Homo sapiens: one gene and its partners. The protein of the gene in region 2 purifies or fractionates together with the protein of the main gene of each other region. This does not show direct contact. Each region holds a gene or a part of one and is shown on either strand. Other genes may lie near its edges.

What was found.
Region 1: the proteins of ZC3H14 (region 2) and ZNF207 fractionate together in Homo sapiens (co-fractionation; one large-scale study listed by BioGRID). This does not show direct contact.
Region 3: the proteins of ZC3H14 (region 2) and PARP12 purify together in Homo sapiens (co-immunoprecipitation; one large-scale study listed by IntAct). This does not show direct contact.

What each region holds. Positions count from the first base shown.
Region 1 is NC_000017.11:32,370,657-32,374,156, forward strand, and holds part of ZNF207 (BUB3-interacting and GLEBS motif-containing protein ZNF207), read left to right. Parts: 3' UTR 1-3,500. UniProt on the Homo sapiens protein: Kinetochore- and microtubule-binding protein that plays a key role in spindle assembly. ZNF207/BuGZ is mainly composed of disordered low-complexity regions and undergoes phase transition or coacervation to form temperature-dependent liquid droplets.
Region 2 is NC_000014.9:88,561,459-88,565,874, reverse strand, and holds the start of ZC3H14 (zinc finger CCCH domain-containing protein 14), read right to left. Parts: upstream 2,839-4,416; 5' UTR 2,742-2,838; coding exon 2,706-2,741; intron 2,529-2,705; exon of another isoform or gene 2,420-2,528; intron 2,225-2,419; coding exon 2,182-2,224; intron 1-2,181. UniProt on the Homo sapiens protein: RNA-binding protein involved in the biogenesis of circular RNAs (circRNAs), which are produced by back-splicing circularization of pre-mRNAs.
Region 3 is NC_000007.14:140,059,959-140,064,162, reverse strand, and holds the start of PARP12 (protein mono-ADP-ribosyltransferase PARP12), read left to right. Parts: upstream 1-1,211; 5' UTR 1,212-1,315; coding exon 1,316-1,641; intron 1,642-4,204.

The DNA of each region.
Region 1 (3,500 bases), on a different chromosome or scaffold from region 2:
TTAAAATGTAAATGTTAACACTTTTCCTTCCTGCTGAGATGTTTAGAGCCTAGTGCCAGACCCATTCATTTCCTTTTGATTATTTTTGAGACTCAGTACTGCATGGACCTCAGAAGCTTTTCAGGTGCAAACTTCTAGAAGCTTAGGTGCATGCAGTAATAGCTTCTTGTGCTGTTAATGGGTTATTATATATTATTCTAAGTGTAATGCTGAGAATCTAAATGTGTCTCTGTTGGGATGGTTAACAGATGAATTGGCAATTTTTATTATGTTCCTGGAAGATTACATTATTCATTTGAGTACCTTCTGTTATTAAGCCTAGGTAGCCTTACTGTGCAACTTTTTATTTATCCTTGGAAATTTTGAATGTTGTGTTCTTACAGAGAGCTTTTCTGTAGAGATGACTGCTATTCAATATTTTGTGTTGCAACCTCTTAAAATAATAGCTCTTGTTGACCTTTTTGGGATCTGTTTTTCTGATCTTTTGCAGGGTAGTTTTATGATTTTTTAGGCATCAAATAACCTATGCAAAGTATTAATATAATGAACTCAAGTTGAGTTTTTCTCATTATAAAGTTAAGACTTCTAAGAAAATGGTAACATTTCTTTATAACTTTCCTGTGAAGGTATAGATAAAACACATGAAGTCTGAAGTTGTATGGAAAAAAGGGCTTTAACTTTGAAGGAAAATATATTGAAAAGTGATTTAGCCATCACAAAAGAGTTCGTATTTATGTGACAGATGAAAGTCATACCTTTAAGCAAAACATTGCAAGTATTATAAAGCTGAATGCTATTTTAACTCACATTGGCTGGGTGCAGTGGCTCACGCCTGTAATCCCAGCCCTCTGGAAGGCTGAGATGGGAGGATTGCTTGAGTCCAGGAGTTTGAGACCAGCCTGGCCAACATGGCAAAACCCCATCTGTACAAAACATTTAAAAATTAGCCAGGCGCGTTAGTGTGTGTCTGTGGTCCCAGCTGCTCAAGAGGCTGAGGAAGGAGGTTCTTCCTCCTTCCGAGGCTGCGGTGAGCTATGTTCACTCCAGCCTGGGCAACAGAGCGAGACTCTGTCAAAAAATAAATTAAAATATCTGATTATCTGGCTTCAATGATTTTGGCTCCTGTGCTTGTGGTACCATAGTGGTACAAAAATTTTCATAGTTTGAAAATAAAACAGGTATTTTGCCAGTAATGTATTTCTTTCTGCCAGCAGCCAAGTCCCAAACCACTTTCCCCTCTGAACCTCTGCTTACCTAAATGGTTTCAAAATTAATACATGCTGCTTTGATTTGGCAGCACACTTAATATACTGCTGAAGGAAAACTTGTGTTGAAAGTCTTTAAGATAAAAATGGTGTGATAGGCCGGGCGCAGTGGCTCACGCCTGTAATCCCAGCACTTTGGGAGGCCCAGGCGGGTGGATCATGAGGTCAGGAGATGGAGACCATCCTGGCTAACACGGTGAAACCCCGTTTCTACTAAAAATACAAAAAATTAGCTGGGCGTAGTTGCGGATGCCTGTAGTCCCAACTACTCTGGAGACCGAGGCAGGAGAATGGCGTGAACCCGGGAGGCATAGCTTGCAGTGAGCGGAGATCACACCACTGCACTCTAGCCTGGACGACAGATTGAGACTCCGTCTCAAAAAAAAAAAATGCTGTGATTAAATTTAGAATAATTAAGTAAGGGGTGCTCTCCCAAATTCTCAGGAATTTCATGTATACGGTTATTGACAAACTGCAATAGGGTTAGTAGACCTGTTTCAGAAATTATGTGAAGCTTTATTTGCATTTTATGCAAAGAAGGTTGATACTTTGTAGCAAGGTTTTTTGCTCTCTGTATAGGTCTGATGGGCAAAAATGGAACTTTTAAATATGGGATAGAATTCTAATTAAAAATTAATTGAAAGTGTTAGGCATTGGCAGATAAAACTTAAGCTCATGAGTTCCTGAGTTTGTAGCTATAGGCTCAGAGGTGGTGTACCCATTTAATATATTTGAAGTGTAATTTTTGCATGCATCCAAACGTAATTAAGCTTCTAGAAAATACCTTTTTTCTAAATGCTTCTGGGGTCCATAGTGTGGTTGAATTATGAGTGGAGCAAATTATATTCATATAATTAACTCTGACTCAACCTTCCTTAAGTAGTAGATGAAGTTGAGTCAAAGTGGATGCCAACTGCCCTCACAGAAGACAACTTTTGGGACTTGATAATTCAGGCAGGCATTGTGATTGTCATAATTAAGGAAGCTGTAAGGTTAGTAGGGCTGGCAACTTTGGCTCTACCTTACATCCACCCCTTTTAGAAAAACAAGAAAACATTTTGTCTGGCACTAGTTTCTGTTGTATAAGTTTTCATACTGTTTAACAAGACCACAGCAGGTAAGGATTAATTTTTGAGTGGCTGCTGGAATTACTTGATTTGAATACTTAGTATTTTAGTAGTGTCTCACACATTTGCCATTAGGTATGAATAAAATATTCCTACTGTACTCCTATTCCACTAAGTTACATTTTGAACTTAGACTCACCTTAATTAAACTTAATTAATTGGGGAGGGGGATTCCCCAACAAAAAGAAGTACGGGCTCAGAGTGGAATTGTAGTGGACAATAGTTAAAAACAAAGCTGCTCCTTTTGCTTGCTTGATCATTGGGATTTTTAAAAAAAAAAATTTTAATGCATGTCTTTTAAATTAATTGGGAACTGTTTTTCTAAAATTAAAATTTTCTTCTTCCTATAGCCCTGCCATAGGACAGGCTGAGGCTGAGTCTCAGTGTTGCCCTGTTCAGTCTGAGGCAAGTGGGATTTATTTTATTCCTTATAGGGGCTTTCACAGCTTTATGGCTGTTGGATATTTATGTCCCCAAACTTGCAGCAAGTTTGGTGAAGGCCCCTAAATTTAATTAAACTTAGGATTTTTATACTCTTTTGGCAGAGAAGGCTCTATATTAATATTCACGTTTGACTGTGGTGTTAATAAACATAAGTATTTCATATGCAATTTTATGTAATTTGCTGTGTGTTACATAATTAACAGCTTCAGTAAAGCTTGTGTTCCTATATTGAACTTCAATAAATTGACAAAATTTGATATTTTTGATTGGAGGCAAGAAATGTTTCATTCAAGTTTTTTACTTTCACTTCTAGGAAAATCTTACTGGTTTTATTTTCTCCATAAACTATTAAATTTAACCTCAAGGATAAGTTTAATCATTGGAAATGCCACTGGATACTGAAATGTGCCTTCTCTTTTTTGAGACGGAGTTTCACTCTTATCACCCAGGATGGAGTGCAGTGGTGCGATCTCGGTTCACTGCAACCTCTGCCTCCCGGATTCAAGTGATTCTCCTGCCTCAGCCTCCCGAGTAGCTGGGATTATAGGCTCCCGCCACCACATCTGGCTATTTTTTCAATATTTTTCAGTAGGGATGGGGTTTTGCCGTGTTGGCCAGGCTGGTCTCAAACTCCTGACCTCAGGTGATCCACCCATCTCAGCCT
Region 2 (4,416 bases):
AAAGAAAAATTTACTGCAAAGACTGGCCTTGTTTCATATTTTTATATATCTTGTTCTATGTGCTTATGACTGAAGAATATGAAAAAATCTGGTCTCACAGATATGCAGTTGAAAAAGGAGTATTCTGATAGTCTTTTCAGATAAGGTGGATATTCTTCTGTGACACTACACCAAAACTAAACAAGTGGTAGCTTATTAAATGTTAAAGCAACGTGGAATGTCAAATACGTCAATGACCTTTTTGAACTGTTGCACAAAAATCCACTGACCCACCCCAGAGTTTAAATAAATCTTTAATCCACTGCATAATTTTGTAATATTATGCATTGGTTATTTAGAAAAGATTGGTTCACTTAGCTACAAAAACCACTGACACGTTGATATATTTCATTATGCAGTATAAAATAATTATTTTTTAATATCGCCATTGAGTTGGCCGGATGCAGTGGCTGACACCTGTAATCCCAGCACTTTGGGAGGCTGAGGCACGCGAATCACAAGGTCAGGAGTTTGAGACCAGCCTGGCCAACATGGTGAAACCCTGTCTCTACTAAAAATACAAAAAATTAGCTGGGTGTAGTGGCAGATGCCTGTAATCCCAGCTACTCGGGAGGCTGAGGCAAAAGAATCGCTTGAACCCGGGAGGCAGAGCTTGCAGTGAGCCAAGATCACGCCACTGCACTCCAGCCTGGGCAACGAGTGAAATTCCATCTCAAAAAAAATAATAATAATAACAAATTTTTTTTAAATCACCATTTATTTAATCAGAAATTTTTTAAGTACTGGGAAGCTGTGAAATTCATGGAGGCAGGCTCAGATTTTCCAAAATTCTAATTTTCATTTGAAAGCTCACATGTGATTGGCAACAAAGACTATGGATTCTTTTCTTTGCTCACTTTCAAGTAAATATCTGCCAAATATCCTAGTGTATGTAACCAGTTTGTCAGTACTTTGAAGTTAAAAATGATGTTCCCTGAAAGAGGTGGCTAGCTTAGTTCTCAACTAAAATGATTTTCCTCAGAACAATCGTATTTCAGTATACAATAAAAATGTTTTATGAGCATTTCTATTTCCTCGCACTGAATACTAAGAAGATAAAAAATATTTTGTAAACCCTGGACTTCACATCTTCATCAATGACATTTTAAGTGTAATTGGCTCAAAAAGAAAAAAACTACAAGGGGGGAGTGATTTGAATATGATTTCATTATGGTGTTACTATGCTGACAAGTTTTATCAACCATTAGTTTTACACAATCCAAACACCACCACCACAGTGAAAAATAACAAATACCATCTTAGTATTAATATGAAAACAGTTTTGACTTCAGAGGCCCTTGGAGTCTCCCACACTTTGAGAACCACTGTCATTAGTGGTAGCTATTATTTTTATAGGAGGCACCAGCTTTGGGGGCAAACCATAAAACCTTGCTCAAGTAGGCAAAGCCTCAGTTTCCTTGTTTACACAGTCAAAGATACTGCCACTTACCTTCCAGGATTCTCGTAGGGATTATCCTGAGTTAATACATATACAATAGTTAAGCACAGTACCTGACCCAGAGTAAACACTCAAATTATAAAAGAATAAAGAGACGGAAAAAGCCTTACTGTTTCAGAGAGAGAGGGAAAACATAAAGAGATCGGAAAATAAAACTCACTGAACCATTACAGAAGCAAATGCCAGAAAGCATCAAACATTCACATCCAACATCAGAGTTCTAAAAACAAATGTCAAGAGGAAAGTAACAAGAATAGGAAACTTTAAACAGGCATGGTGGCTCACACCAGTAATCCCCGCACTCCCAGCACCTAGGGAGGCTAAGGTCAGATAATTGCTTGAGCCCAGGAGTTAAGACCAGCCTGGGCAACGTAGCGAGACCCGTCCCTAGAATTTAAAATGAGAGAGAGAGAGAATAGGAAAAACATAAAATAAAATTCGGTCAAACAGAGCCTTAACGGAGGAAACTAAATTTCAAAACACCATAACAGAAGGAGGTTTGGGAGAAAAAAAACAAGGTTGCAAAAAGATGATAAAGAAGTAACCAGGGAGTATAAGATTTGAAGAAGGTAGAAGGGAGTCTCTCCCAATGTCCAAAGTACGGTGAGAAATACGCATTCACTAAAATTCTATTAGCTGCAAACTCTAAATTCTGTAAGACTAACAACCAAAAAAACACTTACCAACATAAGCTCCTAATTCTTGTAATTTCCCCTTAATGGCACTCTGAGAGAAAAAGAGCAAACGTGCATGTGAGAAAGGCGGCTCTAGGAAAACAAGACCGGACTCTGCAGCGGCTGAGGCCACTTTGCTGGTGCGCGCACCTCGGATCCCCCGGGCGGGGGCTGGGAGGAGCCTCGCCTGCACCGCCCCCCACCCCGCACCCCACTCCAGCTCCAGCCCCAGCCCCGCGGCGCCCACCTCCCGCAGCGGATCCAAAGCGGCGCCGTGCGCCGCGGTGGTGGCTCCAGCCGGGCCTGCGCCTGTCCTTCCATTTCCCGGCGGCTACTTCAGCCGCAGCCACGCTCCGAGGCCGCAAATGTCCCCAGGGCCGAGGCGGCCTGGACGAGGAGGAGCCGCAGCCCGCCAGGAGCGTCCAGCGGAGGCCAGGCCGCGGCGTCCACCCGGGCCCACAGTCCCCGTTACTCCTGACAACCGCCCGCTCGCCGAGACCTGGCTTCCCACCCCCGACCGGCACGGGCCTCACCCGGATCTTGCGGCTGATCTCGGTGCCGATCTCCATGGCTCTGCGGCGTGCGGGAACTCAGCACTGCGCGGCGCTTGGCTTACCCGGAGGCTGCCGCGGACTCCTACCCCGCAGCCGGGACACCACCGCCTCCTCCTCCGTTCCGCCCCCGGCCGCGCACACGGCGTATCCCCGCCCCGGCCGGCACTGCGCGCCGGAGTGAACGCGCATGCGCCCGTGTCCGCGCCTGCGCACGCCTTCTACCCGCGAAACCTGTGCTCAGGCAAGGAGGGCGGCGGCGTGCGCGTGCGGGTGGTCTTGCAGCTCCGCCTCCCGGGCACCTCGGGGACCTTTCGTTAGTCTCTCTGCTGGCCCTCCGCTTATTCATTTTATTCTCTCTTGGATGGTAAGAATGAATTAAATGTGTAGCAGAAAGATCTTGGGCTGTGATATGAGACGCGAGTTCAAATCCAGCCCTCACTTACTGTCAGTATGGTATCGGTCCAGGTATTTCAACTTTTCTTACCTGTAAAATGGAGTCTGCCCATTAGAGGTTGCACTGCAATTACCCTTGAAGGGAAAATGGACTATCCAGAGCAACAGAGCCAATCCGTCAACTCTTTGACTCTGCAGTACACTGGCCCTCCTGGGTTTGGTTCTGCCTTCCTTCTTCCAGGGCCACCCGTGGCCTCTCCCCGAGACGAATCCCATCCTCCTGCTTCTCTGAACACCCTCCGTGGGACAACACTTTTGTTCTTAGGACTTAAGTTGTCAACTCTGTGCTGATAATGACCGAATTTTCCATCAGCCTTGAATTCTCACACAAACCCCACTCCCAAATTCTAAGTAACTACTCTTATTTTCTCCCAACTCAGCGCTTAGACAGAAGTCGCCTTCATCTCCCCTTCCTCCACTCAATAGGTTACTACTGTTGATTCCCCTATTTGTATCAATAGCCGAATTCTCCCTATCCCTGATCACAAAACCTGGGAAACAGAGGAAGCACAGAGAGGTCTCCTTTCTCCCTCATATCCACTAATTCCTGAGAGTGGTCTCTGTTATCCATTGCTGCATAACAGATGACCACAAATTTAGCAGCTTAAAACACAAACGTTTATCATCTCATGGTTTCCGTGGGTCAACCTCACTGGGTCCTCTGCTCAGGGTCTCACAAGGCTACAATCGTGTCAGGCAGGCTGTATTCTCATCTGGAGGCTTGACTGAGGAGGAATCTATGTTCAGGCTCATTCAGGTTGTTAGCAAGAATTCATTTCTGGCTGAGTGCGGTGGCTCATGCCTGTAATCCCAGCAGTTTGGGAGGCTTAGGCTGGCGGATCACTTGAGACCAGGAGTTCGTGACCAGCCTGGGCAACATGGCAAAAACATGTCTCTTCAAAAGTACAAAAAATTAGCTGGGCGTGGTGGCATGCACTTCTAGTCTCAGCTAGTTGGGAAGCCGAGAGGGGAGGATTGCTTGAGCCTGGGAGGCAGAGGTTGCAGTGAGCCAAGATCATGCCACTACAGCCTTGATGAGAGAGTGAGACCCTGTCTCAGGAAAAAAAAAAATAATTCATTTCCTTGTGGCTTTATGAGTAAGGACCCAGATTTTTTTCTGGCTATCATCTGGAAGCCACTCTCAAGTCCTAGAGGCTGCCCACAGTTCTTTGCCAAAGGGTTCACTAACATGTCTGTTCACTTACGCCAGTAAAAGCCAGGCACAGTGGCTCATGCC
Region 3 (4,204 bases), on a different chromosome or scaffold from region 2:
CTAATACCTCCTACTGCCTCCTCTCAACTACCCTTGTGTGTTTCTTCATCTTTCTCCGTGCTTATTCAAAAATATCCTGCCACACACACACACACAGGCTTCTCTTTTTGTTATTCAGACATTTAAAAAAATTAATTCTTGATCATTCAACTTGATTATTTAGACATTTCTGTACAGCCATCTTTTCTCGTTTACCACCACATCATGGCTGTCTGCCCCTCTACATCCGCACACGGAGCTCTAACGCATGCTTGTTAAACAGCCTTCGTAATAGTCTTTAAAGATCAACCACACTGTTCCCACGTAACCCTACCTCCCAGGTAGGGTTCCCCCAGTAACACTTTCACACATAACTTATTTACTGTTCCTTTTACTTCTGGAAGATTCCGAGAGGAAAGATTGCTGGGTCAAAGGTCACACGCGTTTTCAATTTTAATAGCTATTCCTGGATTACCTCCTCAAAGGGCTCTAACAACTCGCATTGCTCTCAGCGTGTGAGAGGGTCCTTTGCTCTGAAGGGTCTTCTAAAATATTTGTTCAATCGTTACTTAGCAGGGGCTGGGAGTAACGGATTTTATTTTATTTTATTTTATTTTTTGAGACGGAGTCTCGCTCTGTCGCCCAGGCTGGAGTGCAGTCGCGCAATCTCGGCTCACGGATTTGCTCTTTTAAAGGACATACCCTTTTATGTTTAAATGAAGGAACTCATTGATGCACCGAGGCGAAAGGAACCTTTAATTAAGTGCGTCTTCTATGCGGAGTGATCGCTTTTGTCACTTGTTCGAGGGGTGAGAGCTCCCGTCAGTTGTCCCTGTTTCTGTGAGCCGTCTACGAAGCCCGGGCTTGGCCTGGGCGACGCTGAGCGGCTTTAACCGGCGGCGTCCAGCCGGCTCCGCCAGCGCTGCCGCCGCCCTCGAGGCTCCCTCTGACTGAAGGCGCGCTGAGCATCGCGGCATTAGGGGCTCCTGGTCCCTCAAACATCCAGGGAAGCCATTTTCAGGGACTAGGTACTGACCCCCGCGAGCCGCCACAGCCACAGCCCGCGCTCCGGGCCGAACGCCCGAGCTCAAGAGCTCCCGAGCTTCCGTCGGGCGGCGGCCTCACAGCTGGGGGCCCTGAGGCGGAAGGCGCAGCCGCTCAGCTGCGGACCGGGGGCGTGGCGAGGGCGCACAGGTTCTGTTTTTCGCCGGCCCGGGGCCGCTTTCGGTTTCGTTTCCCGCCGGCGTCTCCACCCTGCGAGAGCCGCCCGCCAGCCAGCGTCCGCCGCCGTCCGCGTCGCGCCACCCGCGGTCCGACGGGAGCAGGCCCAGCGGCCATGGCCCAGGCCGGCGTCGTCGGTGAGGTCACCCAGGTGCTGTGCGCGGCCGGGGGCGCCCTGGAGTTGCCCGAGCTGCGGCGCCGCTTGCGGATGGGCTTGAGCGCCGACGCGCTGGAGCGGCTGCTGCGGCAGCGTGGGCGCTTCGTGGTGGCGGTGCGGGCGGGCGGCGCAGCCGCGGCCCCGGAGCGCGTGGTGCTGGCCGCCTCGCCGCTGCGCCTGTGTCGCGCGCACCAGGGCTCCAAGCCGGGCTGCGTGGGGCTCTGCGCGCAGCTCCACCTCTGCAGGTTCATGGTCTACGGCGCCTGCAAGTTCCTGAGAGCCGGGTAAGGCGCCGCGCCGGGAGCGACGGCGGGCGGAGGTCCTGCGCGCCCTCACGCACTTCCAGCCCGCTTGGGGGTCCTACTTGAAGTTTGAGCAGACAATTCGGTGGCTCTGCCCTGACCTCGCACCGTCATTCACTAAAGCGAGCGTTTAATGAGCACCTGCGGAGTACCTGGCACAGTGCGAGGGACTCAGGGTCGAGTGGGGTCCTCTAGACGCCTGGGGGGAGAGAGTGATTTACATAGAGCATGGTAGTGCCGGGTGGAACACCCGGGTGTGGCCGTGTGGGGTGGGGAGGGAGGGAGGCGGCGGCTTAGGGGAACTCCACGACGCCGCGGGTCGCCCCTTGCCAGCTTTGAGGCCAGACAATGAAGGTTTTCTCTGCCCAGCAGCTGGTAGAGATCTTTAAACCCAGTTCAACCCTATTAATCTGCTTACAAACTGGAAAATGCAGACTCCCTGCCATCGCCCACAAGGTCCTGGGGCACTGGTCCCTGCCCACCCAGGACCCTTCTGTGACTGGAACACCCCCCCCCCCCCGGGCATTTCTGGGAGCCTGGGCATTTCTGGGAGTCTTTGCTCTGCCTGGAATGCCCTTCTTGCTCTTGGTTGGCCCTATTTGTTAATCCTTCAGGCCTCAACCTAAAGATCACATCCCATTTGAGGATTTTTCCTCCCCTTACTCTTGGTCACAGGGAACTGTTTATTTTCCTCATGGCACCCAGCTGCCAGTAGAATAGAAACTCCCTGAGGGCAGAGGCTCCAGCTGTCTCCCCAGCACTTAGCGTCCATGTTCTGTGCATAGCATGTGGCCAGTGGGATGTGTGGAAGGGATTGCTGAGGTTTATGCTAAAGAATTTGGGCCTCACCCTGGAGGTGATGGGGCGGGTAAAATGGCAGGAGAGAGCAACCATCAGGTTTGCGTTTTAGGAAGTCTAAGGTAGTGGTGTGGGTGCCAATTTAAGGGAGGATGTTGTGGGGGAACCACTGGGAAGCTAGTCATCAAGGAGAATTCCTTCCTCCCCTGCTCCCTCCTTTCTTGCTTGCTCCCTGTTTTGTGTGTGTGTGTGTATGTTTGTCTTAATAGAGTAGATATTTCTTGCTCATGTCAGGCCCAGTAGTGAGCATGGGGTGGGGGCCTTGATCCATACAGTCATTCAGGGATGCAGGCTGACTGACCTCCGCTCTGTGCCCCTCAGCACATGGCTCTTGAGGCCAGCCTAGGTTATCAAGTTCGAGGGGGCTGATCGAAAAGAGGGATGCATGGGAGGTTTTTGTGGGCCAGGTCTAGAAGTGGTGGATTTCCTTTCACCCACATCCCATTGACCAGAAGCTGTCTCGTGACCCTGTCTAGATGCAGGGTGACTGGGAAATGCCTCTAGGAAGCAGCTGTCTGGAAGTATCTAGATTAGAGCTTTCCAAGGGCTATGTGTGTGAGAAATTTGGGATAGCTGGTGACGGTGTGATGAGAGGATATGTGAGAGGTGACGACTCTTCAGTCTCTGTTCCTGCGGTGGCCTGGGTGTTGTTCACTGAGAGAGCAAGAGAGGGTTTTAGTTTGGAAGCATGCCCAGGAGGCAGCTGTTCAGGTCAGAAGCTTGGGAGGAAGGCCAGGGCCCCAATGCGCTGGGCTGGTTTGGGAGATATTGGGCGGTGTATGTTGTAGTTGCAGCCCCAGGAGTGGATCAGATCTGAGGTAGCGTCTGAGGCCTGAAAAGAGGCTGAGGGTGGAACTCTGGGGAAATCAGCCTTCAGGGATGAGGCAGTCCAGGGGAGAGCAGGGAACAACAGCCCACGAGGAGGAAGGCACACAGCAAATGGTGGCTGGATAGAGCCACTCATGGGGGTAACTGGTAGATCTGTTTCATGTTCATATTTGGTAAAATAAAGATGGCAGCCCTGTTCTTAAGCTAGTTCCCAAAATGTGGGGTCAGGTCTGACTTGTCTCGGAAATCTGTAGTGTGATATTTACTGGCTCAGATGACCTTGAGTTTTCTTCTTTCTTCAGTTTTCTCTTTTCCTTGTGGTTTACACAGGTGAGTTTCTTGAACCTTCCATTTCTGACTCACTTTAGGGAGAGTGGGTGTGGTTGGCTGCACTTTTCTGCTTCCCCTGTGACTCTGCTTGTCTTCCTGAACCGCAGGGTCAGTTCTTTTAGAAATAGCTCATCAGTCCTGCTGCAGAGCTGGTACGGAGTCCTGGGTGCCTGACTCTTAGTCCTCTACTCAGGAGGCATTGAGCCTGGTGGTCTAGGGCACAGTCCCAAGATCCAGCCCACCTTGTTTCAACCTGGGCTCTGCTCCTTGCTAGCTGATGGCTTCGGGCAAGTGACTTTACCTCCAGGTCTCAGTTCCCTCATCTGCAAAGTGGAGTTAATGATATTACTACCCTCACAGGCTGGTTGAGGACTGAATGATTAACTCATAAAACATTTTGGCAATCCCCGATATTTGGCAGTTGCTCAATAAATTTTAGTAGTCATTATCATTGTTACCATCAGTCATCGTTACACTTATTAGATATATTTGGCTCTGGCAGCACCAAATTATTTGCCCCTCTTCTGGA